2 separate regions of the Homo sapiens genome follow, and region 2 is linked to region 1. Evidence: fine-mapped expression QTL. Tissue or cell type: lung. Region 1 holds a variant in brackets; the other region holds the start of a gene. All regions are shown on one strand. Distances are between the middles of the regions.

Region 1 (8,000 bases):
CTCACTAAGAAAATCTGAAGGATGGCAAAACAAACACACATGAGCAAGTGCCAGAGAATATTTTCCCATCCCCCTATTTCACAGTTTTTCCTCTCTGAGATTTTACTAGAATGAGTTTAAGCTCTCTGAAAGTAATGTTACTTATTCATAGCTTACTCGTTTTTCTCCCTTTTTTTTTTTTTTTTTTTTTGAGACGGAGTCTCACTCTGTTGCCCAGGCTGGAGTGCAGTGGTGCGATCTCCGCTCACTGCAAGCTCCGCCTCCCGGGTTCACACCATTCTCCCGCCTCAGCCTCCCGAGTAGCTGGGACTACAGGCGCCCGCCACCATGCCCAGCTAATTTTTGTATTTTTAGTAGAGACGGGGTTTCACCATGTTAGCCAGGATGGTCTCGATCTCCTGACCTCGTGATCCACCCGCCTCGGCCTCCCAAAGTGCTGGGATTACAGGCGTTTTTCTCCCATCTTAACCCACTCATATTTAGTCTTCCGAGCTTTGTCTACCATCATTTACTGAACATCTACCATGGGCATGTACTTTAGAGGAAGATACAAAAATGAATAAGGCATAGCCGGGGTGTGCAAATTGTGCACCTTTGGCGGGGGGAGGTCCATGGTAGATGCTGAAAACACACACTAATAATTTACAGCCAGATCCCATGTCTTATCTGGATGGGCTGGCTCTGCTGGAGCACTTCTTTCTTTGTTTTCTAATGAATGCTGAGCTTTTCTACTTCTATTTAGCCTGACTTGTAATCATACTCTACAACCAAACCCCTTTCTTCTCTGCTTTTTCAAAAGTTTCGCCACAATTGTTTTTCTTTTTCAGAGCACCAATAGCTTCATTTTTTCTGATTATAAAAAAACACATTAATTTAAAAATATTTTAAGAATATGAAAGTGTGGGACATCTAAACTGAAAATCTTTCTGCAATCTTCATTCCTACCCTGACATAAATATTGTTAGCAATTTGGTATCTGTGTTTTCAGTTTTTTTTTTCTTTTATGCACTATAAGTTATTTCCTTAAAAACTAGAACTAACTCAGGTTGGGCACGGTCACTCACGCCTGTAATCCCAGCACTTCGGAGGGCCAAGGCGAGCAGATCACGAGGTCAAGAGTTCGAGACCAGCCTGGCCAACATGGTGAAACCCCGTCTCTACTAAGAATACAAAAATTAGCCAGGCGTGGTGGCACGTGCCTGTAATCCCAGCTACTTGGGAGGCTGAAGCAGGAAAATTGCTTGAACCTGGGAGGCAGAGGTTGCAGTGAGCCGAGATCTCGCCACAGCACTCCAGCCTGGGCGACAGAGCAAGACTCTGTCTCGGAAAAAAACAAAACAAAACAAAACAAAACAAAAAAACTAGAACTAACTCAATATTCTATTTTGGATACCTTTCCATGTCAAAACATAGAGAAGTAACTCATCCTTGGGAAAAACTGCATGCATTCCATTGTAAGGACATGTCATAATTTATACAACGAATCCTCTATTCACGGTTTAAAGGTATTAAAAAGTGGTTACCACATTTGACAAAACCTCAAAACTCTCAATAGTTCAACCAGGCTTTTATTTGAGTTCATTTTGATTGTTCTAATCTCATTTCTCCTCCACCTGCTTTGCTTCCTGTTCACCCTTCAAGCAGAAATCTAGTCCACAAATAATTGCCTAGATCTGTTTTTTTTCCTTTTTTATCTTTTTACATGATCTGGAAGGACCAAACATTTGCTTAAAGGAATGGCCTAAGTCAATTTACTAAGTGTGTTCATATATTTTTACTCCTTGTAAAAGTCTTCTGCTAGGATATAGTGTCCATCTTTGCCAGTAATAACACAACTCATGTTGCTGATTGGAAAGCACAGAGTGTTAGAGGGCATGGAATAGAAATGAAGGCAATTTACTTTTTTCTTTCTTTTTAGCATGATGCCCATCTGCACTTGCTTCTGTTAATTTGTTTAATTTCCACTAAGCTTTGTTTCTTCAGCTTGCTGCAAAAGAAAACAAATGCCAAATTTCATGAATGCTTACTATATGTTTAACAACAGCCACAGAAGAGATCTCTTGTCAGATTTTCAGGTCCTTCTCATCTTTCTTTCTTCCCTCACCTCTCCTCCCACTTTTATGTCCTGCACCAAGAATTGATGTCATCCCCCAATTTTTATTGCTTTGTCAGAGTTCACACCCTGCTACATTTTCCTTTCTCCTACAAATATGGTCTGCAAGCTACTGTCTCTTTGCAGCTGAAAAGCTCTTCCCTTCCCTTGGGCAGTGATGAATAAAATGAGCTGGGAGGGAGGTCACATTTTCGTTCTGGCCTCCTAGGACAGTTAAGTCAGCAACGCATTTTAAGTCAGACCTCCTTTAGCCAAACATTAAAAACCCAAAACTTTTAAAAAATATGTAAATCATTTTCTGTGGCAGTTGCTCTCATTTCCAGAGAGGCTCCTAATTCTTGCAAACGTCCCTAGTGAGAGCTTTCCTCAGCCTACATTCCTTGCCTTAACCCGGGTCATTTTCCTTCTGCCTCAGTCTTGGAGTTCATTATTCCAATGAACTTACAAGTATTCCTTACACCTGTATGTGCAGAAAAAATAGAAAAACACGGCCTGGTGACACACCAACACCATTAACAGAGATAAGGGCAACTGGGCTAAGGAGAGATTGCAACCCTTCACAAACTCTGGATCACATAATTGCCAGACCGCAAAGCAACCCTGGTCCCTAAGATCCTCCTCCCATACCCGCAACCTCCCCCCCGCCACCGGAAGTCCCCACATCAGCTTTGGCAGGTAACTCCTTCATCTAGGACCTCAACCCTGGCCTCCTAGGACAAGAGGCAGACCTGCCTGGTTCTTCCCTCCCGCTCCTCCTTCCACCAAATTCTTTTTAATTTTTATTTTAAAATAATTTCAGACATATCAAAAAGTTGCAAAAATACTACAGAGAATTATTGTACACCATTCACCTAGATTCCCCCAAAGCTAACATGTTAACATATATGCTTTATCATTCTTCTTGCTATAAATATATGTCATTCTTTTTTTTTCTGAACTATTTGAGAGTAATTTGCAGACATGTAGCCCCTTTACCTTGAAATAATTTTCAGTATGTATTTCCTAAAAACAAAGATATTTTCTTACAAAAGTATAGTGCACTTATGGAAATTATGAAATTAACATTGATACAATGCTACTATCTATGTACGGATATTCAAATTGTGTCAGTCATCTGAGTAATGCTTTTTATGGAAAAGGAGAAATAAATTTCTAGGCCAGGACCCAACCTGCGATCACACGCTGCACTTAGTTGTCATGTCTAATCTTCTTTCATTTGAAACAGTTCCTCAGTCTTTTTCTTTCATTAAAAGTACAGACCAGTTATTTTATAGAATGCCTCTCAGTTTGGGTTTATTTGATGTTTCTTCGTTAGACTGAATTGTTTGCTAATCCCTGTCCCTCCCAGATTTAGAGAATTTTCATTTATTTTCAATACTTTAATTTTTAATTCAGAAGAGCACAAAGGATGAAATAATGAACATATATGTTTGCCATACTTATTTCATATCTATCTTTTCTTTAAGATAAAAACCATACAGGTGAAAAAAAGTCCCCTAACTGGTTGCTGCCAATCCATTTTCTACACGCGTAAATTGCACCTTTTTAGAATCTCCACTTAAAATCCTTCAATGGCTCCCTGTTCTCCCAGGACAAGCCCAAACTTCTGACAGACAAACTCTTCTCAATATGGTCCTACATTTCTCCAGTATCATGGCCTCTCTGCCTGCCCCGCCTCCATATTTAATTCTATCCATGCAACTCTCTCTTGGGGAGTGGGGAAACAAAGCGCAGCAGCAAACCTTAAAGGAGGCTTTGTGGAGAACCACGGAAAACAAACCAACTAAGCAACCATGAAACAGCAACAAAAATGAGCACACACCATTACAGGCAGAAAGTTCCTGTTTCAACATCAGTGCATCACCCTCAGGGAGATCTAGGACCAGACTCTTCATCTCTTCAAGCCTCTTTGCTGGTTTGTAAAATAAGGAATGAATACGTATAACACAGAGCTGTTGTGATGA[A/G]CACAGTCTAATGAGGAAACATCAAACATACTGTTTCTATTGTATGTCTGTATAAACATATATAAATGTCCTTATACATCTGTACATACATATGTGTGTTATATGTTTTTAATCTTCTCTACACAATGCCAGGCACTTAGGAGGTATTTAACAAATATCAGTTCATTTTCCTGCCCCTTTCTTCTTTTTCCACTTTCCTTCAAATCTGTGCATGTGGAGACGTTACACAATTCTGATGAGGCTGTGACCCAGGCCAGAGAAGGGTCATTGCTATGGAGATGGCCCTAAGCTCCCTGCTGCACCCACCTCACACCAAGCCAATTAGTCTCTTCGACTGCGGAGCAAAGCTCAGCAGGGTCATCATTTCCCAAAAGAAGTCTACATTTTTGCGACGTCTCCCAAAACGTCCTCATCAAGAACCTCATGGCATTAAGGATGCTGTCTGTGTCCCACCAAACACTGCAGACTAGAATTGGTGACATAAGTTGGGTTGTCTGATCATACAGCAAGTAACAGCTCACCGTAAGATCTACTAGCTTGCCAAGAATAGGCATTTAACCCCCATCTTATAACTGAATATAAACAGCAAGATAAAGAAATGTCAACTTTGTAACTCCACAATCTGAGAGATAGGTTATTACCTGAACTTGTGAGAATTCCATTGGAAAAAAATGAGAATGCCCGTTTTACCAAATTTGATGAGTGACACCAATAATAAAATGCCAAACTATATAACAAAATGGTATACACATCAAAACACTTGAGACAGTTAGTTTTCCAGAATAAAATAGACTCAGAATGCACTTTATACATTACAGAACGATCATACTACAGGCTGTTTATAAGCCATGGGCATATAACATTAAGAGCCATCCCTCAGGATCCCATATTTTAAGTAAGCACAATTGCAGCCTATAGGAGAACCCTGTCTTATGGTTTGGTCCACATTCATAATACTGAACACTCATTGCATCAGAAGCTAACAGGAAAGCTAAGAAATAAATGAAATTTAACATTTTGAATGAGAAATATATAAGCAATATAAGCTCTCTAGAATGTAAACTCAGAATACAGCCTTCTGCATGCCCAGAATGAAGCCTAGCCCGCTGGAGGGCAAACCCTGCTGATTATTTTCTTGCTAATACAATAGTACTACAAATGTATTAGAATGCCCTAGAAGCTTATTAGAATGCCCTAGAAGCTTATCCTGTTCTTTAAAAAAAGTTTAAAATCGACACATAATAATTGTATCCTGCTCTTTAGAGACTAAGTGCACAATGATGCATTGAGGTTTTCTCATCAAGACATTTAATAAAGTTTTTAACTAAAGTAATATATGCTACTACTATTTCTTGGTTTTATTTGAACAGAACTTGTCTCCTCTTCAGACACACAGTATTCACAACTGATTTTTAATTGCTCAGAAAAAAAATCAGAAAATAATTCAAATAATGTAGACATAATCATAAAATTCTATTTTAGCACTCTAAAACAGAAACTAGTTTAGGCATTCGAACTTAGATTGAAGCCACGTTTATAGACTATTAAGATCTGAAATATACAGAACTTTAAGGATTAAATACATGTTCAAAAAATAATAGAAACCTGAAATTAGCAGGGAAAGTCATAAATAACCCTAAGATTACTTCAGGATGTATTTGGACACCTAACTGTTTTTAAGAGAAAGAGGCCTTTTTTCAAAATTACAGACAGAGTCTCACTTTGTTGCCTAGGCTTGTCTCGAACTCCTGGCCTCAGTCCCCCAAAGTGTGTGGATTACAAGTGTGAGCCACCATGCCCAGCCTGAGAAAAATATTTTTTAAAAGCCCCTGTAAAATATGAAAAAAAATACACCCCTGCCAAAATTGAAACATATTTAAATTCTTAGAATAGGTTTTTAGTTTACATTGATCATCAATTTAACCTGTTTTCTCCTAAAGGTGACATAACAGAAAAACACAACACAATGAGATGATATTACTCATTTAAAATTTTCAAGAATAGTCGTTTTTCTAACCTATGTACAAAATCTTGGATTTATTTACCAATATGCCCAAGACACTACTAATAGAGTACTGTTCACTAAAGGTCCATGTTTTTGTTTGGTGCAGGACAAGATGGCAGTTAAGAGTCCTAGCAGAAACTCAGTCCCATTACTCACTAACTAATTGATATTGAGTAAGTTACTTAATCTCTTTGTACCTCAGTTTCCTCATCTGAAAAATGAGGTAATCATAATCCTTACCTCACAGGGTCGTGAGGATTACAGGTGTTAATTCTTAGGATAGGGAAGGTTCTTAGAGCAGTTTCTGGCAAAGAGTAGGCATTTAATAAATGTTAGCTATAATGATTGTTATTACTATATGATGATTCAGTGAACTGTGAACCCCTTAAAATGTTCATGGCATTCTCCATCATGGATTTTTGCCATTTTTTCCTCTGTTTCAAACCATGTTTTAAAAAATGTAATTGTATCTTACCATACATGAAAACCAATTTCATCAAAGGATACAAAATTTCAGTTAAATAGTAGAAATAAGTTCAAGAGATCTATTGTACAACATGGTGACTACAGTTAATAACAATGTATTGTATTCTTGAAAAATGCTAAGAGAGGGAATATAAAGTGTTCTTATCACAAAAATGATAACTATGTGAGGTAATGTATGTTAATTAGTTAAATTCAGTCATTCCACAGTGTATAAATACTTCAAAACATCAAGTTGTACAAGATAAATACGTACAATTTTATCAGTCAATTTAAAAAACAATTAAAAAAACCATTCCAGGTGAAATAAATGTATCAATATGAAAGGCAAAACAACAAAGCACTTATAGTAGAGAGTACATTTTTATGATCTTGAGTTAGGGAAAGATGATTAAAGAAGCCACAGAAAGCACTAATCATTAAGGAGCCAATTGATACATTTAAGGCATTTTTACTTATTAAAATAGAGAAACATAGTATAGAAAGGTTAAAAAAAAAAGCAGGAAAGACATTTGCAACACAAATAACTGACAATGACTAGTATTCAGAATATATAAAGAGCTCTTACAAATCAATATGAAAAAGACAACCCAGTCAAAGGAAAATGATGTTAAACTTCTTCCTGAATAATTTGATATTTCAGGCTCTGATTCACGTTAATCACTGTTCTGAAGACCTATAGATTTACATCCATAACTGTTATGTATATATTCTAAGTATGAAGGGAACTGTGATTGAATAGTCTAATGTACTGCTGGGAAGTAGAGAGCTCTGCAAAAAAATTACTCATGAATTAAATCGGCTTTTGCGTTCTATGAAAAGACTCAAAATGTAAAATTCTACATGAATCATTCATGTTTGGGGCATTCTCCTTAAAAGTAGAGAAAGACTATGAAAAAACAGGCAAGAAGCCTGTGGAAAAAATCACTACGCATTTTTCGAGGTTTACTCCAGTCATTTTTAAAAGTCACAAATGAGAGAGAGAAAAAAAATCACTACTTGTTTTCGAGTCATTGACCATATGGAAAAATGTGTGGTACTTTCAACCAAGATCATAAGTGTGGAGGTCGACTCTAAGACGTCTGCCTGATCCTGCCTCCCGTATTGCCCTATATAATTCCCTCTCTCTGAGTATGGGCTGTGGCTAGAGTCTTGCGTCTAACCAGTAGAATATAGCAAAACTGATGCAATGTCACTTCTGAGATTAGGTTACATAAAGTCTCTGGCTTCCAACTTGCTCATCTTTGTGCCTTCTGATGAAGTCAGAGGCCATGTTGTGAGTTGCCCTATATAGAGCCCCATGTGGCCAAAAACAAGAGAGCAGACTCTAGCCAGCAACCCTTGAGGAACTGAATGCTGCCAGCAACCACATGAGTGTGAGCTTGGAAGCACATCCTTCCCAGTCAAGCCTTGAGATGACCACAGTCCCAGATGA
Region 2 (8,000 bases), 28 kb before region 1:
TATACACAGTGGATTTGAAATCTTAAGTTGAGATTTTCAAACAGATTTGTCTCAGTTCACATGTTCCATGCACTGCTGACTCCAAACAGCTATCCTTGCAAACACAAGTGGTAAGACTAATGAAATTAGGAGGCCTTACACCCAAATGGCATTAAGCACAATCGTCCAGAGCACTAGTAGCTATTTCATGATTGCTACAGGAAAAAAAAAAATCTTCACAGATACCTAGAACTATCGTAGAGGCAATGCTAGTCTAAGCTGGAAAACTGGACAATCTTCAAAGCTAGAAAGTGAAAACTGGGCTGGGGGTGGCTGGAGGACAACCTAGGAGCAAAATTGGCATCACCATCCATTCTGGAAAAGAGGTGGTTAGAAGAGGGGAGGGTGAGGAGAAAGAAATACATATGGACCAAGTACCGAGGAAGACCATGAATTTCTTATAATAAATAAAACATTTTATTTCAAAAAGTAAAAAAAAAAAAACAAAAAATTCAAATACCACCACCCTAAACCATTACCACCATGAATATGTTTTCACACTACATTTTAATTTTAACAAGAAGAACTTTAACATTTAGAAACATTATTTCCTCTTAGATTTTCTTTTCTTAAAAGTTGGGGAAAAAAGAAAACTATAACCAATATTATATATCTCATTATCCCTTACCACTCAGTCATATCTATGCCAAAACTTCTGTTTAGCTATAGGCAATCCTTTCCTTCATATCAGAAATAATTTAATTGAGCGAGGGGTAGGGTGGATATAAGTTCAGTATATGTAGCTTCACTTTTTAAAGGAAATTCTGATATATTCTGAAAAAAAATTGCTAATCGTATTAGTAAGTATATAATGCTGCATCCTCCACGTGTAACAACTTGTTTTCTGTCACATGCAAATTCAGCTGCTTTCCTTCGTTACTCCATTCAACAAATTTATATATTAACAGTACATTCAAAGCATTTAAAACTTCACAGTGCCAGCCGGGCGCGGTGGCTCACGCCTGTAATCCCAGCACTATGGGAGGCCAAGGCGGGCAGATCATCAGGTCAGGAGATCGAGACCATCCTGGCTAACACAGTGAAACCCTGTCTCTACTAAAAATACAAAAAATTAGCCCGGCATGGTGGCACGTGCCTATAATTCCAGCTACTCGAGAGGCTGAGGCAGGGGAATCACTTGAACCCGGGAGGCAGAGGTTGCAGCGAGCTGAGATTGCATCACTACACTCCAGCCTGGGTGACAGAGTGAGACTCCGTCTCAAATAAATAAATAAATAAATAAATAAAACTTCACAGTGCCCAGGACACCTGAGACATTCTTGGTGCTTGTGCTCTTTGAAAGAGCTGAGCAACCTAAAGAATATGACTTATGTCCAACAATTCAGTCTCCTTTATTATACCATCAGATAAAGTGATGTTTTACAAGGAAAATGGAAATATTTTAAAACTCGAGGAGCCCAGCACATCTAAAGGATTTCTGTTTCATGAACTTACGAAAAAGCTGGACAGTCGGAAAAGTCTTACTTGCTTCAAACAAGTCAGACCGTTTTCTCCTGTTACCTATGCTTACAGTCAGATTCCCATTTACCTACAATCTGGCCTTGAGATCCAATATCAAGGCTGGTGGCAGTAAAATGGAGCCAAACACTGTGATTTCTCCCATGTAAATTTGGAATTTGAGAAGTTAGAAAAGTGCTGGCTGCCAGACAAGGTGACTTCCCACTCACCTCCAGCTCAGTGTTCAACATTTTTAAATATCAGCCCCCACCCTCGCCAGGCCACCAACACCAGCCAGGAGCCTTTGAAGACACTTTCCCCCTATGCAATTTGAATGTATAACGTATTTTAAACTACATACCATATGTACTGTATGTACGTCTGTGCGTGATGTATCAAAAGGGTAAAACTTTTTCATCCCTCCACGAACCAATTTTCCCCTGCTGGGGGCGATATCACCCCTGTTGAAAATGCACGTCCTAAACAACAGCTACAAAAACTCAAACTCACATTTAATTGTCTTTTCAAGGCCAGAAGTTCCTAAATCAATAATGATTTAGCACCACTTCAGTCAAAACAATTACATCCGAATCATTTTCAAAATAGAAGCTTAAAATATATATAATCCATGAAATGCATAAAATTGGGCTAAGTATTGTTCCAGCAGTCAGCAACATTCTGGTTAATTTTTTGCATTACTCTCTGTTCGTTAAGCTCTATTTGATGCTTGCTCACAGAACCAAAGATTTGATTAGTGTTGAATTTTACACCTTTCAAGAAGCGAAAAAACCAAACACTCTCTGAGAAAACATTTTTCTGGATGGCAGCAATTGGTAATTTGCAAAAGCAGATAGAAAATGTTCATAGAAAGCACTGCAATTTTCAATTTACCAAACGAATAAACTAACCTCTGCTGCTCACAAAGACCTGAAAATAAATGGCCCACAAAGTTATCAGTCATAAAAACAAATCAATGTTTCATTAAAAAACCACTGTGCCATCTGCATATGCAACCGAGGAGAAACTTCTCCATCCAAAAAGATTCCAGACTGCTCATGTTCTACCATAACTTCAAAAAACAACCAACCCCCACCCCAGCATTTTCAAATACTCATGGCCAGAAGTTTAATAAGACTAAGAAACAGAACAGTCACCAAGAAATGCAGGATATATCCTGTCCAGTCCACTACTAGGATGGTTCTGCATTTTTATATTGTTTCAAAAATAGTGAGGGCAAAGAAAGTCCTCTGTATGAGCCAATAAAAAGAACTTCATCACATTAAAAATTGAGCTCACCTACCTTCACTGGTCCATGTTCATTACTGGAGCCCTGCACCAGCTGGACGTACAACATCATGAAAACATTCACCACTACCCACTCTCTGTACATTTTGAATATTTCAATATCCACTGATTACTAAGCAGTTGACATCAGGCAGCTAGAGAAAATTGTTTCAAAAGGCATTCTCCAGAAGGAAAGTTTGAAACCTCAAAACTTCACACAGAAAACCAAATAATCAGTTCTGATCAAAATCCAATGAAATTATTTCAATTAGGCAAGGTACGCTTTTTTTGCACAATCTTAGGGGTGGGGAGAGAGAGATGAAAAAAATCAAAATGTTCTCCAAAAATAATCAGAAGGTGGACATGTCTTCTACCTGAAATTAGAAAGCACTCTAAATTTACTTCATGTCCAGAAAATTAAAAAAATCTCTCCAATGTATGCCGCAGGTTCTAGTTGCTTTGTAAGGAGGTGGTGTGGCCACCAATGCTTACAGCTACAGAAAGCTGGAACCCAACTCTGGATTGAAACTTTTTTGCACAACCTTCATGGAAGCTTGCAGAAGCATGTGTCTTAAATCTGACACAGATTTTGGCAGAAAATGCAGAGAAGTCTTGGCTGTAATCCTGTTGCGTCCCTACCAATAGCAGGGCAGTTTTAAGAACTGACTCAAATGTTCAGGGCTGCCGTTATTTTAAAGCAGATAACCTGTAACATGAAACCCCAGCACATAGCTTTGACCTTTGTATCTCAGTGGGATTGCTTAAGAAGGGACCTCAGATGCTCATGCATCTGCTGCCAATGACACACAGAAAGCAATCAAATATGATTTTTAAAACCTGCACATGCACAAAAATAATAAAAACATCCATCCATACATGCAAAAAAAGGCAAACATACACAAAACGACTTTTTAAACAGAAGCTTAGTAACTTAGGTATCTCAAATGAAAAACACTGATTTTTAAAGAAACAATGATTAGGTTTATTTGCATGTGCCAGGAAATATCCTACATTTATTGTTACAAAAACCATGTTATCACGTTAGTGTGGAATTCTTTAGAAGCACCGGCTAAATAAGCTTTAGAAATGGAATGCCTTCAATGGCTCAATCTCAGAAATGGCAAAATTCTAGGACACATCAAGACCTGCTCTTCCGCTTTCCACTAGTTCCCAATCTTTGATTTCCAGGTTTTGGCCCTTTCAAACCCATTTTTTGCGTTTCTGAAATCAAGAATAGCTTGAGAAATCTCTTCATTGGTGTTCATCACAAATGGACCTAGGGCAGAAAGAGACATTCAGAAAGTTCTGGGTGGCAATATTTTCCTCTACCACTAGAAATGATATATATTTCTGTAGTTCTTAATTTAAAACAAAATCCAAGCACATCCGAAGAGTAAAAGTTTATTTTCACAGTGTTCAATCCCCAAGGACTGTAAGATGAGTTTCTTGACTAGGATTGTATATGATTATTGATTATAAAGACGAAACTTCAGATAAATGCAATGGCATCTCACCCATTCAGTATAGGTTTCTCACCAGCAATGGTGATCTTTTTTATTAAAAAGAGTCTTAGATTTGGTTCTATTACAACCAATTTTGTAGTTATTTTTATAACATTAGCTGATGTCAAGAATTGAACCCATCTGATACAAAGAACTGACAAATCTTATCATAGCTTTGGTGTCTAAGCAGCATATAAGGCTGTATACTTATTTGAGGATTCTAAGTCATTTTTTGAAAATCAGCAGCACCTATTGACAATAAACAGAAGATTATAAAAATTTCAAGTCGAAGAGCATCATTTTTTAAAAGTTTTCTAGGGGTTGGCAAATGTTTGCTAGGAAGGGCTAGATAGTATGTATTTTAGATTTTGTGGGTCAAACAGTGTCTGTCTCAACTACTCAACTCTTTCATCAAAGTGCAAAAGCAGCCATAGATAATGCAAAAGTGAATAGGTATGGCTGTGTCCCAATAAAACTTCATTTACAAAAACATGCAGTGGGCAGATGTAGCCCATCGACCATAGTTTGCTGACCCTTTTGTCTAATTGCTGGGTCTGAACTCGGATTTTGCTAAAAATGTACAAGAAGTCCTCCCCTAATCTACCAGGAGGCAATGTGTGTTTCTTCCCCTTTCTTCATATATTGTAGGGGCAGAGAGGCACTGGACTGTCTCACCCCCATGATCTGCTAGATGAACAAGGCCAGCTTTTATATGGCATTGACAGTGTCTTTAGAGCAGTTGACAGACTTGTTCACTCAGTGTATGTCCTCATCCAGCCTGCAGAAGTTCCTGACATTCCTTTTATGGAACTGCCTGCTCTAAGGGGCTTTCTCTGGGAGATTCTGATTAATATACAACTGTATTGCTTAGAGAAAATAACATATTCAAACTTCTTAACCATTGTTATCATATCAACATGGATTTGGTGATCACTATAATTTAAATCTTCAGAAGGAAGACACAGGATAATATGTCTTGATGATGCTGAAATCTTTGGAGAGGATGTGGGGAATAGAATACAAGTAGAAAGAAAACACCCAGGCATCTAAATCCATTCATTCAATTACCTATCTATTATGTACTGAATGCCCATTAAATGACAGACATTGTGCTAGAAGCTAGAGACATAAAGATGAAAGACAAATAAATGGCAGACTCCCTCTCCTCAAGGATTCAAATCTATCACACAGATATGAAAAGAAATCATTACAAAACTGTTTGAAATATGGAAGGATAAAAGTGTAAAAACTATAAAATCAACACAGAAAGGGGGAGGAGGAGAAATCCAGGAAAGGATTCACAGAGGGAGTGATGTTTGAGCAGTCACACACGGAGGAAAGGCATGTTCAGGCTTAGTATGCTGGAGGAATACTGGAGGGGATAGGGGTACAGTGGTGGAAGGAGGGATCAAAGGCGGAAAAAATGGCGATCTGAAATATAGGAAGAAACCAGACCCTTCTGGGCTTTGGATGCAATCTACAGGAAGAAGTTTGGACCTACTTTTGCAGGTGATTATGAATCACTGTAAGGTTAAGTAGGGAGTAATATAATATGATTTATAATTTTTAAAGAAGACTTTGGCATCAAGGTAGAAGAGCAGGTGTCTAATTTGGGAGGCTGAGTCAATGGTGGAATTGTTAAGGGTATTTGAGATACAGGACGTGGGAGGCTTTGGATGGAGCAAGGTGTTCAGTTCTGGATATTTTTTGTTTTGTTTTTCTTTTCTTTTCTTTTTTTTTTTTTTTTTTTTTTTTTTTTTTTTTGAGACCGAGTCTTGCTCTGTCGCCCAGGCTGGAGTGCAGTGGTGAGTGGTGCGATCTTGGCTCACTGCAACCTCCGCCTCCCGGGTTCAAGTAATTCTCACACCTCAGCCTCCCCAGTAGCTGGGATTACAGGCACGTGCCACCATGCCCGGCTAAATTTTTGTATTTTTAGTAGAGATTGGGTTTCACCATGTTGGCCAGGCTGGTCTCAAACTCCTGACCTCAAGTGATCTGCCAGCCTCGACCTCCCAAAGTGCTGGGATTACAGGCATGAGCCACCGCGCCCGGCCCAGTTCTGAGTATTTTAACATAGAAGTACTAGAGACAATAAAGTGGTTTCCCAAGCAGAGGTTTTTGGTACATTGTTGAAACTATGGATCTGGAGCTCATGAGAGAAATTTCATCTGGAAATGGAGGTTTGGACTATATCAGGTAGGAAAGAAAAAGAGAGTTAACATATGCAGAATAAACAATAAACCCAAGAGGGTACCCTGGGGAAGACAACTTTTTAAAGGACACGCAGGGGAAAGGGAAATGCAACTTGGAAGATGGGAGCAGGTACTGAGTCAAGGACCAAATTCTTGTGCCTCATAATTTTGCTATGGTTGGGACTTGTGGAGCAGTACTCCCATCCCCCAACTGTTTTCTGTAAGAATGGTGTGCTTCTAGGCTTCCATTTTGACACTTTCTGGGGTAGTCTGCCATGTTTCTCAATTTATAACGTGCACATGAATCAGCTGGGAATCTTATTAAAATGCAGATTCTGATTCAGGAGGTCTGGAGTGAGGCCTGAGATTCTGCATTTCTAACTATCTCCCAAGTGATGCTGATACTGCTGGTCCATGGACCACACTTTAGGAAACAAGTATAACCTCTGTTATACAGGGAAGCATTGGAAGCTTAGAGTCCCCTAAAGCTAACTGATGAAGCTTATCTCCTCAAATCTTCAAGGAGAAAACTGAATCCAGAAAGCATGTTTTTAAATTGATCAACTACAAGGGTTGTGAACAAGAAAATTATTTGATAGTTACCTATAATTCTCTTTCAAATTATAGCTTTCATCACTTCTCTAATTAAGCCTCTGAAGCCCCCCTCTTGTATAAAATGGTGTGTCTAACCTCTTGTTATGTAGAACTTTGGTATAGTGGAGCGAACATAAGACATGGGGTCAGGAGACTAGGGTTCGAGTCCCAGCTCCACTGCTAACAATCGCTTTCCATTAGAGAAGCTACAGGGCAGAGCAATGGACGACCAGCATGGTAAGAGGCAGAAGGGCAGGGTGTTTGGAAAACAGACAGCCTGAGTGTGAATCCAGCTATGTGACCTTGAGTAAGCCAATGAACCTTTGACCTTCTGCTTCTTCATCTGTAAAATGGGCATGAGAGTACCAACCTCATAGGGTTGTTTTGAAGGTTAGACGGATTAACATTAGGAAAGTGCTTTAACCAATGTCTAGGAAATAGTAAATTCTATGCAAGCATCCATTAAGTAAATAAATAAAATATCTGGATTTTATTTTCCTCATCTATAAAAGAGGCATGACTACATCATGGCTAAGGTTATTTTCTATCCTAACATTCTATGATTTCCTGTGCTTAATCTGTGGATGAATAATTAAGGACACACGATGATAAGAGGAGAAAGGGTCTTAGGTAATTCATGAGATCTGTGCAAGTTCCCAATCAAGAGATGGTTGTGGCTGCCTTTAAACACACATAAGTAAAAGAAAAACTTAAATGTCTGAGTTTTTAAAAGTTAAAAAATAAAAACAAAATGCTTTGCTTCTCAGTAACTGAACTTTCAAGGGACATATTTATTTTGTCTGATTACTCCGAGTTTGTATGTGCAGGCATACCTAGTGTCCCTGTGTTCCAAGCCACTGGGAGAGGATCCACATGACCCCAGTGTAGGGTGGCTTTGAGCAGTCCCACTCCTTTGATCTGTCACCTAATT

The links. PIP is the estimated chance that this variant, and not a neighbour inherited with it, causes the effect.
Region 2: it holds the start of VEGFD, and the variant in region 1 is fine-mapped to the expression of VEGFD in lung (TOPMed, PIP above 0.99).

Annotation. Positions count from the first base shown.
Region 1 is chrX:15,408,927-15,416,926 of GRCh38, forward strand. The region is part of intron 6 of PIR (pirin); the gene reads right to left. All of the region lies in intron 5 of PIR-FIGF (PIR-FIGF readthrough), which reads right to left. Among named protein-coding and RNA genes, the nearest start is that of VEGFD, 29 kb to the left of the region's middle. The variant A/G (reference allele first, on the strand shown) is at 4,078.
Region 2 is chrX:15,381,060-15,389,059 of GRCh38, forward strand. It overlaps VEGFD (vascular endothelial growth factor D), which reads right to left and starts at 3,354. Exons shown (of 7, transcript NM_004469.5): 1 at 2,798-3,354. The coding sequence starts at 2,887. It overlaps PIR (pirin), which reads right to left. Exons shown (of 10, transcript NM_001018109.3): 10 at 3,740-4,057. The coding sequence ends at 3,945. The region is part of intron 9 of PIR-FIGF (PIR-FIGF readthrough); the gene reads right to left.